2 separate regions of the Homo sapiens genome follow, and region 2 is linked to region 1. A link means that fine-mapping ties the variant in region 1 to the expression of a gene that starts in the linked region. Tissue or cell type: subcutaneous fat. Region 1 holds a variant in brackets; the other region holds the start of a gene. All regions are shown on one strand. Distances are between the middles of the regions.

Evidence for each region. PIP is the estimated chance that this variant, and not a neighbour inherited with it, causes the effect.
Region 2: it holds the start of KLHDC4, and the variant in region 1 is fine-mapped to the expression of KLHDC4 in subcutaneous fat (GTEx, PIP 0.91).

The regions. Positions count from the first base shown.
Region 1 is chr16:87,693,721-87,701,794 of GRCh38, reverse strand. It overlaps JPH3 (junctophilin 3), which reads right to left. Exons shown (of 5, transcript NM_020655.4): 5 at 3,639-5,215. The coding sequence ends at 5,135. LOC100129215 (a long non-coding RNA gene) reads left to right here and starts at 5,654. Exons shown (of 1, transcript XR_109334.3): 1 at 5,654-7,158. It also overlaps a transcript of KLHDC4 not described here. RefSeq lists enhancers at 35-84, 3,111-3,170. The variant C/G (reference allele first, on the strand shown) is at 3,292.
Region 2 is chr16:87,761,946-87,770,019 of GRCh38, reverse strand. It overlaps KLHDC4 (kelch domain containing 4), which reads left to right and starts at 4,034. Exons shown (of 12, transcript NM_017566.4): 1 at 4,034-4,228; 2 at 7,980-8,071. The coding sequence starts at 4,130. LOC105371399 (a long non-coding RNA gene) reads right to left here and starts at 3,979. Exons shown (of 3, transcript XR_933871.3): 1 at 3,679-3,979. LOC102724467 (a long non-coding RNA gene) reads left to right here. Exons shown (of 4, transcript NR_120309.1): 4 at 3,596-3,689. RefSeq lists enhancers at 3,939-3,998, 4,079-4,138, 4,122-4,746, 7,579-7,648.

The sequences.
Region 1 (8,074 bases):
AGACGGGAGAAGGATGGCGGACGGGTGTGCACGCTTGGGAGGACGGGCGGGCGGCATAGGCCTGAGCAGGTGGCATGGGCGCACGAGAAGGGTGTGTCTGAGACAGGATGTTTATCCCAAATGCCAGGAGTGGACGAGGCGGACGAGTGGCAGTGAGGTAGGCATGTGAGGTTGTTGCCTGGCCCACTCTGCCGACCCCAGAAACCCAGCGGCCTGGGCCCAGCACCCGGCTACACATGGGGTGAGCTCACGCCCACACTGTGGCCTGTGCCCGTCACGGGGCTGCTTGCTTCTCCTAGGCTTGGGAACAAGCTGGCATGAACGCTGTGGCCGCATTCACAGCTCAGGCACTTCCACTTTGGGTTTCATGAAGAAACAGACTTAAAGAGCATTTGTTCCTAATGGGTGGGCTGAAGCTTGGGAGGAGCATTCAGCTTCTCTCCACAGTATGGCTTCACCTGTTCCTGAGCGCCCTGCTACCCTCTTGCTAACCTGGGTGGCTGAGGTCCTCTGCTTTGGTGGCGTTGACTTCCCGTCTGCAGCCAGCGCCAGGTGCCAGCCCCCGCCTCTGCTCATCGGGAAGCGCTGGCCTGCAGGTGCTTTGTGGTTGCCACGGACCCTTGTTCTGTCCCTTTCCAGCACCCACCCCCCACGCGCTGTGCATTCCGTAGTTCATTTTCAAGGCAGGGGGCACATGGTGAAAATACAGCCTGGCTTTTTTTCAACAAATGCAGCTGCACTCTTCCTTGCTTGTTTTGAAGGCTGAGCCAGCAACCTCCTTGGCACCTGGGGACAGTCGCTTCCTCAGTTTCTGCGTACCGACTGCCTCACCTGACACGCGGCCTGGGCGCGAGAGAAGCCAACCAGGTGCCTGAGTTGACTGACTCCTTCCGCCCTCCAGCTTCCTCCCTCCGCCCTCCAACCTCCTCCCTCCACCCTCCAACCTCCTCCCTCCGCCCTCCAACCTCCTCCCTCTGCCCTGCAACCTCCTCCCCTCTGCCCTCCAACCTCCTCCCTCCGCCCTCCAATCTCCTCCCTCTGCCCTGCATCCTCCTCCCCTCCGCCCTCCAACCTCCTCCCTCCGCCCTCCAACCTCCTCCCTCCGCCCTCCAACCTCCTCCCTCCGCCCTCTGCCCTCCTCCCTCTGCCCTCCAGCGTTCTCCCTCCTCCCTCCACCCTGTTTCCTCCCTCCACCTCTTCTCTCCTCCCTCCACCCTCTTCCTTCTACCCTCTTCCCTCTGCCCTCTTCTTCTGCCCTCCTCCCTCCACCCTCTTTCCTCCCTCCTCCCTCCACCCTCTGCCCTCCTCCCTCTACCCCCTGCCCTCCTCCCTCCGCCTTATCTGGAATCGGGGTCTTGGTCCTGGGCTGGAGGCAGACCCTGGCCCGGGCGAGGTTAAAGGTACTGCAGGAGGGCGGCATCATGATGTCCTGAAGCTTGTTGCGCCCGGTGCTGTCGGCCGGCTGAAGGCAGAAACAGTCACAGCACCTGCAGCTATGGAAGGCGACGACTGAAAATCTAATAGGCACCTTGATGTCAAGTTTCCAAGACCAAAGGCAAGAACAGTCAGATCAAACTTCGGAAGAGTCAGAGAAAGTGAGCATGACCTAGAGGAGGGAGACGGTCCTTCCGCTGTCTCCTGCAGAGCGTCTGTCGCACGTATGAGGTGAAATCCGCACTGTCCCATGAAGACTGTGAGGGGAGTTGCCACCCGCACACGGCCCAGGAGCGCCAGCAGCTTGGGGACCACCACAGGCCTCAGGGTCTCTTCAGTCCGACGGGTCCAGCTGTCGATAAAACCTCCCGGGGAAGGAGTAAAGGACAACCAAGAACCTGAACTGCAAAAGTATGAAAAACATTTCATTTCCCTCGAGTTCTCCACACTTTAGGTCTGCAGCGCCTTGGGGGTGACTGATGGCCCTCCGTGAGACGCGGTGGCCATGTGCTTCTACAAGTGAAAAGGAGCAAGTGTGGTTAGAGCCTGGAGTATGGACGTCCCGGGGACCGCTGGCCCATGGCCTGGCTTGGGGCCTTACAGGGGAGCGAGCTGAGTGAATGCAGGGGAGGGCCCGTCTTTCTACAGTGTGTATCTTGTTTTTGAGACAGACTCACTCTGTCGTCCAGGCTGGAGTGCAGTGGCGCGATCTCTGCTCACTGCAACCTCTGCCTCCCGGGTTCAAGCGATTCTCCTGCCTCAGCCTCCTCAGTAGCTGGGATTACAGGCACCTGCCACCACGCCTGGCTAATTTTTGTATTTTTTTTTTAGTAGAGATGGGGTTTCACTATGTTGGTCAGGCTGGCCTCGAGCTCCTGACCTCAGGTGATCCACCTGCCTTGGCCTCCCAAAGTGCTGGGATTACAGGCATGAGCCACCGCGCCCGGCCCTGCCCTGCTTTTCTACATCACCACTGTCTTGTCAGTTAGCTCGGCTCAGGCATTGCATGCCTGATCTGTATCTTTGGGAATCCTGTGAGGTAATGGTTCTAGATCCAAAAGAATGGATAAAGAGACTGTTTCAGTTCCCGAAATTATCCAGGCACATTCTGTGCGCTACTGAACTTCAGAAAGCACCAGTCCATCCAGTGTGCAGAGGCTGGTAAGTAAAACAGGCCAGCCGTGGGCACAGACAGTTTCACCAGAGGCCCCGGGGCAGAGGGTCTTCTCCAGCTCTTCCAGGGCGGGGCTCATCTGTTCCTGGGCCAGAGGTGGACCTGTCTGCAGGCTTGTAAGGGTGGGGAGACGCCAGCCTGGCCCATGGGCTGTCCACACCCACCCCCCGCAGACCGCGCTGCTGTCTGCAGGGGATGCCACCACTTCCTCCTGGCCTCGGGTGCACAGGTGAAACATGAAGAAGCTATTGGGGCGGAAAATGGCTCTCACCAGGCTGCTCTCGGGTTAATGAAAACTCGTCAAATTCTCCATGCAGCAGCAGCCAGCCGGGCACATGCTGTCCTGCCCTGCCCGACTGTGTGCAGGGAAGCAGGTCCCCTGGGCCTGGGCGGAGGGACTGCGTGCCTGTCAGGGAAGGCCGAGGCTCCGGACAGGCGGGAAGCAGCCTTCTGCTTAATCACCCCATGTGGAAACCAATTAAAGATTCGATTCTCTCAGACCCGGGGCATTTTAGCCTTGGTTGAATCCTCCTGGAATTCACAGGGAAGTGGCTTTGCCCTCTGCCCTCGCTGCTGGAAGGCAAGGGGCCGTTCTCGCCTTGGTTTTCTAGGTTGTGTTGCGGCAGGAGCTGACTGCCCCTAGGCCTAGATCTCTGCACAACTTCGCTCAGGGACACCTGCCT[C/G]TGTGCATGTCTCATGGTGTGAATGTGTTTCCTGCTCACAGGTACCGTTTTGTGTCATGCAGTTACTGGAATGTACAAAAGCAGCTGTGATCTTTGTGAGAGCTGCACAGAGCAGGAGTCTGAGAGCTGCACAGAGCAGGAGTCTTTATTTGGTTCACTTCTGGTCTGCAGCAACCACTTGCTACTAAAAGATGGAAAAGATGTACAAAAATGTCACAGCCCTTTAGAAAGCGACATTATCAGAAATGTATGACCTTCAGTCCTCCCTCCCTCTCCTATGCCCCCACCAGACCAGGCGGCGAGAAGGAACAGGGAGTGAACATGTAACGGAAAACAATAAAACTGAATTTAACTGGAACATGCTCTAATCTTTAGTTTATTTCTGGTTAAAAATATAGCAATCCAGTGCAGTGTAGTAAAGAAGTCTGCTCGAAAGGTAGCAGAGAAACAGCTAAACATAAGCAAAGCAAGGCAGAGTCCATAAGACGGGCTGGCCCCAAGACGACCGGATGGGGAATCCCTGCAGCGCCTCCCCGGGCACAGGGGTCCTGCGTATGGCCGTGCCCGGACCCCTCAGGCACGTCCATGCACACGAGAGCCAGGGCCAGGGGGCACTCGGACATCCTGGCAAACCTTGTTCTTTTGTTTGGGTGATGGAGCGACCCTGGTGGAGAAGGCAGAAACATAAGGAACCTGTTTTTGTTGGACTGAACAAGTTACATTGTACATTTTAGGGGGCTGGATATGCTACAGTTTCTCAGGAAGTTTCAAGCCACTGGGTTTGAACCGCATTCCTGTCCTGGGACCAGGCCCACTGTGGTGTAGCACTGAGGCATCTGGAAGGAATATGCATATCTGTTAGGGGAAGTTGAGGCAGGCACAGTACAGAGATGTGAAAACCCGTGGAGATCAGTAACCATGGGAGAAGGCGTCCTCTAGGGCCCTCACTGCTGGGGACACGGAACCCCACGCGTCCACCCTGCACGCCAAGCGCACACACCCAGAGCCCCGGCGCGAGCCCAGCTCCACGGCACAGCCCCCTTGGCTTCCGTGCTTAGCTGAGCCCAGGCGGATCGGAGTGGGCCCCGGCTTCCCTGGGGTCTGGTGGGGGAAACAGCCGAATGGGACCCACAGTGAGTGGGCAGCAGAAGAAAAGGGCTTTGCTTTAAAACTCGGTGTGGGGAGTCGGCTTCTCATGGAAGGCCGGGGGCAGTGCCGAGAAGAGGGAAGGACCTGCATCCGTCTCACAGGGAGGAGGTGGCCGATCCCTCCCCCTCCCTCAGGTGTGCAGCACAGATCTCACACAGAAAAAGGCCAGGCTACTGCCCACTGGGGTGGGCCACCCTGCCCCATGCCTCCTGCCCATACTTGTCACCCGTCTGTTCTAGACAGAGAAAGCAGTGAATCCACTTTCTAAGCTCGTGTCGACGGGAGTCAGCCCTGCCACTCAGGGGCCGCGGGGCTGAGGCTCTGCCCCGGGCTGCCCTCCATCCACACCCAAGACGGGACGTGTGACCACGAGGACAACGTCCGCTGTTACCACTGATGTGCCGGGATCCCTTCTGTCTCCACGTGGAGCTGGAGGGGCTGCGTGCTGGCCTCCTTCTGCCATGCCACACAGCAGAGTGTTATACAAGCAAAGAATTTTGGCTAAAATCCAAAAAACATTACCCAGAAAAAAAGGCAAACTGTGAGTGATACCCAATCGTGTGGTTCTTCTGTGAGAGGACTTGGAAGTCGCTGGGCTGTCCGAGTTGCGGTCTTTCCCTTCTTGTGGTTTTGCTTTTAATTTTAATGTCCCTTTTTTCTACCCTTTCTCTATTTTTGCTACCGCGACATCTCATCAGATGAAAAAGTTAATAAACAGAATGGCGACTCCGATGTTGAGCAAGATCACCATGACCACCAGGATAGGCGCTGAGCCCTGGAAGAGAGCGAGGGGAAGAGGTGAGCGACAGCTGCGGGGGGCTCTGCCTGGGCCACCACGCCTCCCACCCACGTCTTTTCACCAAGCTAGCAGACCCTCGGGGGTGGAAGCGTACGGGAGGATGTTAGAAACGCTTGGACACCAAAGGCCCACCAGAACCTGAGCTCCGTGAAGTCCAGACGCGGGAGAGAAGCCCCAGCTGCCTGTACGTCTGAGGTTGCTGGTCCTGGAATTCCCTTGGAATTCCCTTGTGGCCCCGACACCCTGAGTACCAGCTCTCCCAGGGTCCCCTTGGAGAGAACCACCCAGGCCTCCCTGCAAGCAAACGTCTCGGTGCGTGTGGCCTTTGTGCCAGTCAGCAGGCTTCTCCTGCCCTGTGGAACTGGGACCTCAGAATCTCAGAAGGGCCCGCATGGCTGCCATGGCCAGTGTCAGATGCAGCCCAGCAGAGAGGCCCTGGAACTCAGAGGACTCCCAAAGTCCGTGAGCACAGTGTCCTCAACAAAACCCCCCCTCACCACACCTTCCTCAACAAACCCCTCACGCCAACTGGCTCTGGAGGACTGTGTCCAATTGCGAGCTGCCTTGGATTTAGGTTATGGTCCTGAATGCTGCTGCCACCACCTCCCTGAAGTGGCTCACAAGTCCTCAGCCTCCGCCGGAGCCCCAAGTGCCAGACTCCCCCTTCAGCCGCACAGCCTGGGCACTCGGACCAAGCTGCCACCTTCCCTGTGCTTGCCGGGGCCAGGTAGGACACGTCTCACAACAGAGCCTTTTCCGGGGGCGCCCTTCTGCAGTGATTCTTGCAGTCCTGCACTCTGCTGTGTTCTGCTCACACCAGGCAGGGGGAGAGGGAGCGTGGCCCCTCTGGGAAGCTCCCAGGACGGCAGGGGTGGGTGCTGCCCTACAGATACAGTACCTGCTGCACAGGGAATGGACGCCTCCTGGACGGTGGCCCCAGCCCAGGAATGGCTGGGACACCCACTCCAGTCTTGCCCACAGTCTGCTTCCAGAGGACACTTGCCCCTGCCTCTCCCCACCCCCACCACGCCCTGCATCTCGCAGCCACCTGGAAGGAGATGTAGACCCCACTGTGGTAAGGAGCTGTTCAGAGCCCCCGGAGCCCTCCACTTCCTACCACGCAGACATCCTGCTGCTGTGCGACACAGATGGACCAGGGCTTGTCCTGAAGGTCCCAGGATGCACATTCCTCAGGGATGGCTACTCTCCTCCCCCTCCCTGTTAACAGACTGGTTTTCCATGGACTCCTTTAAGCCCCCAAGTCTGGCCTCTGGTCAAATTTCAAAGACATGATGGGGTGGTCTGTTAAGACTGAGTAGCTCATGTGGCACCAGGTGAGGGCTGCTCAGGCCTGCATTAAGGAGGGGAGCCCGAACAACGGGCCTCCCCCTTCCCCCCACCCACAACGAAGCAGCTGCTGCTGGCTCCTCTCCCAGAGACTGGAAGAGAATTGATGAGAACACCGGGGACCCAGCAGTTCCACTCCCAGGCCTAAATCTAAGAGGGCAAAGTCAAGCCTCCACTCAAAACCTTGTGTGTGCACACACTCCCGGCAGCAGGATTCACAACAGCCACGGAGTGGAAGCAGAGCCAGCTGTCCAGTGGAGGATGAACACACAGCGGGGAAGACATGGGCCGTGCAACCGCGGCTGCCACAGAGAAAGCGCAGGAGCAGTGCATGCTGCGTGAGAAGCTGGGCACCAGGCAGAAAGCAGAGTCCGGGAGCTGGGGGAGGAGGGGACAGCAAGTGCCTGCTCAATGGCCCTGAGGTTTAAGGTGATGGAGCTGATCTAGATAGAATTGGGGGTGATGGCTGTATAACTGGGAATACACTAAAATCCCTGACTTGTACACTGTGGCCACCTGAAGTGAACAGTACACGCTTTCTGTCTCAGTAAAGCTACGCAAAGAACAGCAGACATCCCGCATGAAGTCAGCTCTCCAGGGCCGCACCATGGGAGCTATGGGCTGGCAGTGGCCGGCTCTGCTCTTGACACACAGGAAGGATGCAAACTCAGAGCCCCAGTGGGGTCACGGCCTTGCCCGGAGAACTCCCTCTGGGGATGGCAGCCTGCCGTCCCCTTGCCTAGCCTGGATGCCACATCCCGCGGCAGCGAAGCAGCCTCCTGCTTGACCGTCTGGCCCGGGGACCCTTTTGTCTCCTGGGTCAGTTTCATTCTTTCCCCAGGCTGTGCTCCTGATGAAGCAGCATCGTAGCTGATGTTGAAGGGCCTCACGCCAGCACCTAGGCTGGTCTTCCCTGGGTGCCTGCTTGAGCACGTGGCCCAAAACAGCCGTTGCATGGGGCACTCAGAACCCACCACACCCTCGCCCCTTCCCAGCCCGCCACCCTGTGGCTGAGGCCCTGTGCCTTGAGCAAGCTGCTGCCCCTCCTCCTCCTGGTCCAGTTCTGCCCACACCTGGGTGCCCACCTCCCCTCCCTGTGGTCTCCAGGAGCTGCCCCCAACATGCCCTGGGCAGCAGTGCTCATCGTAGCCCCGTCTGTGGCCTGGACAGGCTCTGACCACTCCTGCGTTGGCACAGCTTCCTCGGGAGGCTCCTGCCAACACCACTCGGCACGGTGGGCTCAACACGGCAGCGGCAACGGGTGGGAGTACTTGCCTCTGCCTGGCCCGAATGGCGGTTTTCCATTTGGATTTGGGGATGAGCAGCCAATGAGCCTATCTCATTCCCGTTAACGTGAGAGAAACATCCAGACGCTATCCTCAGGTCTCACACACCCCCGCCGTGCTCTGCACCACACCTGGCAGGGGCACCCCCGACTGTATGCTGGGCATCAGCTCCCAGGCCCGAGCGCCTCACCTCACACTGGGG
Region 2 (8,074 bases), 68 kb before region 1:
ACAGAGTGAGACTCTGTCTCAAAAAAAAAAAAAAAAAGCCTTTGTGTTTTGCTTTTTTACTTCCCTAAGCTTTATTTTATTTATTTTTAATTTTTATTTTTTGAGACGGAGTCTCACTCTGTCGCCCAGGCTGGAGTGCAATGGTGCGATCTTGGCTCACTGCAAGCTCCGCCTCCCGGGTTCACGCCATTCTCCTGCCTCAGCTTCCCGAGTACTGGGACTACAGGCGCCCGCCACCGCGCCCGGCTAATTTTTTGTATTTTTAGTAGAGACGGGGTTTCACCGTGTTAGCCAGGATGGTCTTGATCTCCTGACCTCGTGATCCACCCGCCTCAGCCTCCCAAAGTGCTGGGATTACAGGCGTGAGCCACCGCGCCTGGCCTCTTTCCTAAGCTTTATTATTGTTTCACTTGATTTTCCCAAGAATCCTGTGTAATAGGTGAACTAGTTCATTATTCCCACTTTCCTGCTGGGAAACGTGCAAAGAGCCACGTAATCCATACCACACTTGGCAGAACCTTCCAATCACATTGATTACTTGTGGTGAGGATAATTAGAAGTTAGCATATTTTCCTAAAATTTAATCTATTATTAATAGATTTTTTTTCTCTTCTGCACTTCAACTTGAAGGCAGCAGAGGGCGCCTGATCACACAAAAGATACACTCTAAAAGTCAGCGACAGATTAAAGATAATCCATGAAAGTTTCAACAATGTGAATTTTACTAAAATAGAGCCTTGTACTTAATCTTTTGACTATTTTAGGATCTGATCTCATTTTAGATGTTCTATTCCGTCTTTCTCAGTATGAGAATTTCAGTCTCACGTAAATCACCATGACACCTATAATCCAAGAGCCTTCTAATTTAGCTTCAAGCTTCTTTCAGATAATAAAAGTATTAAACCCCGCATCCACCAGATCCTCCTAAATCTTCAATAGGTCATACGCTCTCCCTGTCTCCGGCCTGAAGTGGGCACCACTGTAATGTACTGCAGCCAGATGTGCTGTGAATGAAGAGCCTTTTGGCTTCAAGTGCATTGCCTCAGGTTTACCCAGGATTTTTAGAAAAATATTAAAGGATTACGTATGTTCTTAAAGTCATAGTACACTAGAGGGGACAGAACTATTTCCCGAGGGCAATAGTGAGGATTTAGCCTTTTGTAGTTCGTCATGGAAGATAAACATGCCTGGATGCCCAGGCTGGGTTTCTGTGAAATTCTCCAGCTCCTTTCTGCTCAGCTCCTAACCGGTTTTTTTTTTCTACCACCACATAGGTTTCCTACAAGCAGTGCTGGAGACCATGGTGGTCTTCAACCAGTGCTATCTTTTCTTCTCATTATTTCCCCAAATTTCATTTTTCTTCTTAAAGAGCTAGGTTTATGGATAAGGCTTGGAGTGGGTTGGAAAATCATTCCTCCTCAGCTGCTCAGTGACTAGTCATTGATTGGATCTAAGGTAACTTTTTTTGTTTTTGAGACAGAGTTTCGCTTTTGCTGCCCAGGCTGGAGTGCAATGGCGTGATCTGGGCTCACCGCAACCTTTCCTCCCGGTTCAAGCAATTCTCCTACCTCAGCCTCCTGAGTAGCTGGGATTAAAGGTGCACACCACCACACCTGGCTAATTTTTTTGTATTTTTGTAGAGACGGGGTTTCACCATGTTGGCCAGGCTGGTTTTGAACTCCTGACCTCGTGATCTGCCCACCTTGGCCTCCCAAAGTGCTGGGATTACAGATGTGAGCCACTACGCCTGGCCGAGTTAACTTCTTCTTTTTTTTTTTTTTTTTGAGACGGAGTCTAGCTCTGTTGCCCAGGCTGGAGTGCAGTGGTTCAGTCTCGGCTCACTGCAACCTCTGTCTCCCAGGCTCAAGCCATTCTCCTGACTCAGCCTCCCGAGTAGCTGGGATTACAGGTGCGCACCACCATGCCTGTCTAATTTTGTATTTTTAGTGGAGATGGGGTTTCACCATGTTGATCAGGCTGGTCTCAAACTCCTGACCTCAGGTGATCTGCCTGCCTCTGCCTCTCAAAGTGCTAGGATTACAGGCGTGAGCCATCACACCTGGCTGGATCTAAGATAACATCTTTTTTTTTTTTTTTTTTTGAGATGGAGTCTTGCTTTGTCGCCCAGGCTGGAGTGCAGTGGTGCAATCTCCGCTCACTGCAACCTCTGCCGCCTAGGTTCAAATGATTCTTTTGCCTCAGCCTCCTGAATAGTTGGGACTACAGGTGGGTGCCACCACACCTGGCTAATTTTTTTTTTTTTTTTTGTATTTTTAGTGGAGACAGGGTTTCACCATATTGGCCAGGCTGGTCTTGAACTCCTGACCTCGTGATCAGCCCGCTTCAGCCTCCCAAAGTGCTGGGATTACAGGAATGAACCACCACGCCTGGCCTAAGAGAACTTTTAAAGGCTGACTCACACACAAAGTAATAAACTAGATTATTTCCTGATTTATGCTTTCCCTTTGCCAAATTTTGGCTTGTCCTTGTCCTTAATTTGCCTTATTCCTTGATTACCCATCCAAAGATGACATCTTCTAAGTAGTGATAAGCATTTTTACTCTGCTCTTTCAAATCATAACATTCCATGCACTGCAGATGATTTTGCCATTTCTTACGTAATTTGAGGCAAATCCTAGAGTACAATTTCCTAGCAGGCATTTGGATATTACCTATCTTTATTTCTCAGGCTCCACAAATTGAGTACCCTTTCAGGGTGCTATCATTAGCTCTAGCCTACCTATGAAGAAACAAAAGTCCTCCATGTTAGGACATTTGAGGACATGCCCTTAGTACCTAACAGTGTCTGGCACATTTTAAATGGGAAGGTGGAAGGGCCCCCCCATTTTTTTTTTTTTTTAAGATGGAATTTTGCTCTTTTGCCCAAGCTGGAGTGAAGTGGCTTGATCTCAGCTCATTGCAACCTCTGCCCCCTGGGTTCAAGCAATTCTCCTGCCTCAGCCTCCCAAGTAGCTGGGATTACAGGTGCCCACCACCACGCCTGGCTAATTTTTGTAGTTTTAGTAGAGACGGGGGTTTCACCATGTTGGCTAGGCTGGTCTCGAACTCCTGACCTCGTGATCCACTCACCTCGGCCTCCCAAAGTGCTGGGATTACAGGCGTGAGCCACCGCGCCCGGCAGGGACTGTCTTACTCAGGATCTGCAAAATCTTATAACTGTGTGAAATTTTTTTTCTGGGAAAAAAGCACTCATTTGTTTGGTCTGAGGGGAAAAAATGGGGCTAGCCCAAGAGTCGCCCACTTAGTTCTACCCAGGGCGAAGCAATGTGCCTTAACGGGGGGCACGTGCACCCCGGAAAACTCAAGAGAAAATGAGCCGGGCGTGGTGGGCTCCTGTGGTCCCAGCTACTCCAGAGGCGGAGGTTACAGCGAGCCGAGATCGCGCTACCGCACTCCAGCCTGGGCGACAGAGCAAGACCCTGCCTCAAAAAAATAGAAATAAAAAATAAAACTCAGAGGGCACGTCTCCTAGGACACGGGGACAGGCTAGGTGGGGGCACAGGGCGTGAGAATTGGCGAGCATGGCCGGGGTATGTCAGGCCGGGGCTGCCATCTTTTTTGTTTTTTGAAACAGGATCTCGCTCTGTCGCCCAGGTTGGGGTGCAGGGGCGCATTGCTGCCTGGAACTCCTTGACTCAAGCGATCTTCCCGCCTCACCTTCCCGAGGAGCTAGGACCACTGGGCGCGAGACACCACGCCCGGTTAATTTTTTTTTTTTTCTTCTGTAGCGACTGGGGGTGGGGGGTGGTGTCTCGCTTTGTTGCCCAGGCTGATCTCGAACTCCTGGACTCAAGCGATCCGCCCGCCAAGGCCTCCCAAAGCTCCAGGGTTACAGGCATGAGCCACCGCGCCCAGCCCGGGGCCGGTCATCTTTTCCGGGGCCTTATGCAGAGTCCGAGGCCCCCGAGCCCGCTGCCGAAGACGGAGCTCCAAGACCGAACCTCGTAAAGGGCCCAGCCGCACCTCTACCCGGAAGCGGCTCGAACTCGGGGCCGGAAGTGACTCCATTTCTGTGCGCCGAGCTCCGCCCCACGAGCACCTGTTTCCGAGCGGAGAGCGCGGGCCGTTTTCTTTCCTGGTGTCCCGTCGCGGCTTGGGACCCGGCAAGATGGGCAAGAAGGGCAAGAAGGAGAAGAAGGGCCGCGGCGCGGAGAAGACGGCCGCCAAGATGGAGAAGAAGGTGTCTAAGCGCTCGCGGAAGGAGGAGGTGAGCGGGTCAGACCGGGCTTAGCGGCCCGACGTCGCGGCCGTGCAGCCTCGGCCGACTCCCTGCGCCCCCCGGGGTTACGGGTCGGCCGTGGGAGCCGCGCCGGCCCTGCGGGAGAGCTGGAGGCCGTAGGAACTGCCCCGGCGCCGCGTCCGGGCAGCCCAGACGGGGCCCGCCCCCTCCTGAGTCTCCACGTGTGTCTGTCCGCTTCTCGGAGCTGCCCCCTTTAACGTGCTTGCTTTTCTTAGTGTGGTGTCACGGGCGTTTTTCTGCGTTTCCTCCCCCTCCTCCCTTCTCCCTCCACCCTCCCTCTGAAGGGAGGCTGGGTGGTGAGAAGAGGGAGGGGTTTGGCACAGGAAGACCTGAGGTTGAGCCGGGGGCTGCCTCTGCATGATGTGTGGTCTGGGAGTAAGACTCTTAACTTTTCTGAACCTTACTTTTCTTTCAAAAGAGGGCAAATAATCATCACAGCAGCCCTGAGCAGTGAGCAGCAGATGGTTAAGTGAAGAAGGCACTGGAGCCACGGGGTATCCCGTAGCAGCTGATGGCGGCCATCACGGTTGTCTCCTTCCCTCTGGTCCTCAGCCCGGGGTCTGCAGGAGGATCCGTCCTGACCTTGGGGTTGAGTGTTCTGCGGCTGCTGCTCATGGATTCCCTAACCGGGGCCAGTTTTATGGCCTGCCGTGCGCCAGGCACAGCTCCCTGGGCTTTACTCCTCACGAGCAGGTCAGTTCCGTAGCACTGGTATTCCCATTTGACAGGAAGACCAACAGGTGAACCATGAAGTGGTATGGAACTGGGATGTGACCAGATGTCCTGAATCAGGAGCTCTTGACCACAGTCCTTTGTCCCTTTTCTTCCTAAGTCATTGATCTCTCCATGTCCTCATCTCTTAAATAATGGAGTTGGACTTTTCCCTCACACTCCTCTTAGGCTCTTTCTTTTTTTTTTTTTTTTTTTTGACAGAGTCTTGCTCTGTCACCTAGGCTGGGCTGCAGTGGCATGACCTGCTGGCTAGGGTTGTGGCACAGGAAGTCAGTTCATCTGTGTGGTATCTTCAGAATGGTGCTTGGCAGAAAGTAAGCACTCAGTAACCAGCTGTTAGCTGCTTTCTGCTTTTTTTTTTTTTTTTTTTTTTTTTTTTTGAAGGAGTTTCACTCTTGTTGCCCAGGGTGGAGTGCAATGGTGCGATCTCAGCTCACTGCACCTCCGCCTCCCAGGTTCAAGTGGTTCTCCTGCCTCAGCCTCCCAAGTAGCTGAGATTACAGGCATGCACCACCACACCCAGCTAATTTTGTATTTTTAATAGAGACCGGGTTTCACCGTTTTGGTCAGGCTGGTCTGGGACTCCTGACCTCAGGTGATGCGCTCGCCTCGGCCTCCCAAAGTGCTGGGATTACAAGCCGTAAGCCACCTTGCCCCGCCAGTTACCTGTCATTTTTACTCATCTCCATGTCTCCCTCCAGTACCCAATACTAAGGTGATTGTAACAGTAGCTTCCCTTAAGAGAGAGAGCCTGTCAGGCCTGGGGTTTGTATGTTATCTGAATGAACCCTCAAAACAAACTTTTAAAATAAGTGGGCGTCTGATTAGGCTAGACCCACAGAGGATCATCTCTTTCTTAAATTCAGCTGTGTCTGTAATACAACCTAATCACAAGAGTGGTATCCCATTCTTTCACAGTCCTGGCAATTATTGGGGGAAGGATTGGGGACAGTTTGGAATTCTGCTCCCACAGAACTCATGTATCAGGTCACCTGGTTCGCACCTTCACTTAGTCCTGGCCTCTGCCTGTCTTTCCAGCTGTCTCCCTGGGCTCACTCCAGCCACAGTGTCTTTTAGTGTCTCAAACATGGCAAGTTGTGTCTGTGGTCTTACCTATACCCCAACCATACTCCGTCTGAGTCGTCTTTTCAGCATTCAGCTTATTGTCACTTTGGAGAGGCTGTCACTGGCTAGGCCACTGGCGTCACCCAGACCCTACCACCTTGCTCTCCTTCAGTCACCCAATGATGATGAGGTTCAGCCAAGGTCAAAGACCGCTCTAAGTAGCAGCAGCAAAGCTTTCGCGGTACATAGACGTTAGTATTTGAACTGTTTGTTTAACCTCGTTGAGCAAAAAAAGCAAGTTGAAAGAATATACAGTATGATACCATTTAATGACATTTTATTTTTTATTTTTTTTGAGATGGAGTCCTGCTCTGTCACCCAGAGCAAGTGTCGCAGTGGCATGATCTCAGCTCATTGCAACCTCTGCCTCCCAGGCTCAAGCAATTCTCCTGCCTCAGCCTCCCGAGTAGTTTGGGACTACAGGTGTGCGCCACTGTGGCCGGCTAATTTTTGTATTTTTTAGTAGAGACGGGGTTTCACCGTGTTGGTCAGGCTGGTCTCGAACTCCTGACCTCAAATTATCCACCTGCCTCGGCCTCCCAAAGTTCGGGGATTACAGGCGTGAGCCACTGTGCCCAGTCCATTTAATGACATTTAAAAATGTAAAACAATACTATATGTTGCTTAGGGATACACATGTGTAATAAAAGATTGAAGAAAAGCGTGAGACTAATAAGCATCGAGTTCCAGATAGTGGTTACTTGAGGGAATGTGTGGGTGGGTACATGTGGGTGACACTTTATTCCTTACCCTGGGAACCGTATACAGGAATGTCTTGGATAAAGTTCTGTTAACTTGTGTGTTTTAAATATTGCATCGTTTAGAATACTAAGCAGTGTACCCTGCTGACATTCACCCTGAGATGAGAGGTAGACTGAAGGAAGCACGAGGTGGGGCGTGGCAGGCTGAGGGAACCTGGCGTTTTCATTGAAGGAACGGAGAGGACGCTGGTGTATCTTGGAGAGTGAGGCCAGGTGGGAGGTGAGGTTGGAGAGGTGGGTGTGGGGGAGGGAAGATGGTCTGCAGGTGTGTGTAGTTGCAAGCAGGACACTGAAGGCTAGAAGGAACTTGAAATGCCAGGCTCGGGTGTGCATGGGAGTGTCTCGTAAATGTTGGGAAATGGGCACTGGGACTGAGGCGGGAACACTGGGTTCCAGTGCTGCCCTCTGTGCTGGCACATCAGTACCTTGAGTCACTCTCGATGGTAGTAAAAGTTGAGACCTTCTTACTTGGATAGACTGCAGCTGGTATTTGCTGAGCTCTTGCTGTGCAGGCAGTGTTTTAACTAGACACAAGTCTTGCTCTGGTGGAGCTCATATTTTATTATTTTGTTGGGGTGGAGGAAACAAATAAGCAAGAGAAATATATCAGACACTGCTCAGCAGACAGGAAGGCAGGCAGGCGTGACGGCCCAGGCCTGGGCTCTGAGAGGTGCTGAGGGTGTCTGCAGTGAAGTCACGATGGGCTTGTCTAAGTGGAAGTTCTTGTCAGACACTGCTCTGCAGACAGGAAGGCTGGCAGGTGCGACGGCTCGAGTCTGGGTTATGAGAGGTGCTGAGAGTGTCTGCAGTGAAGTCACAACGGGCTTGTCTAAGTGGAAGGTCTTGCAGAGGGAGCGTTAAGGGTGTGGAGATAATACTTGGTGCACACATCTACCCTTTAAGCAGACTGCCTTTGAGGTCAAGCTCTGGTTACTTTCGAATGTGTCAAACTCTGCATTTCAAACAGGCACAGTATGTTGCAATTCACAGATGTGACTGAGCCCAGTCGAATCACACTGATTGGAGGAAAGCTGAGCGGGCTGTGGCTCCGCGGCGGGTCCTGGGAATAAGTCTCACGTGTGCCTGCTTGCTTGCCCTAGGAAGACCTGGAAGCGCTCATAGCCCATTTCCAGACACTCGATGCCAAGAGGACTCAGACTGTGGAACTTCCGTGCCCCCCACCCTCACCAAGGTG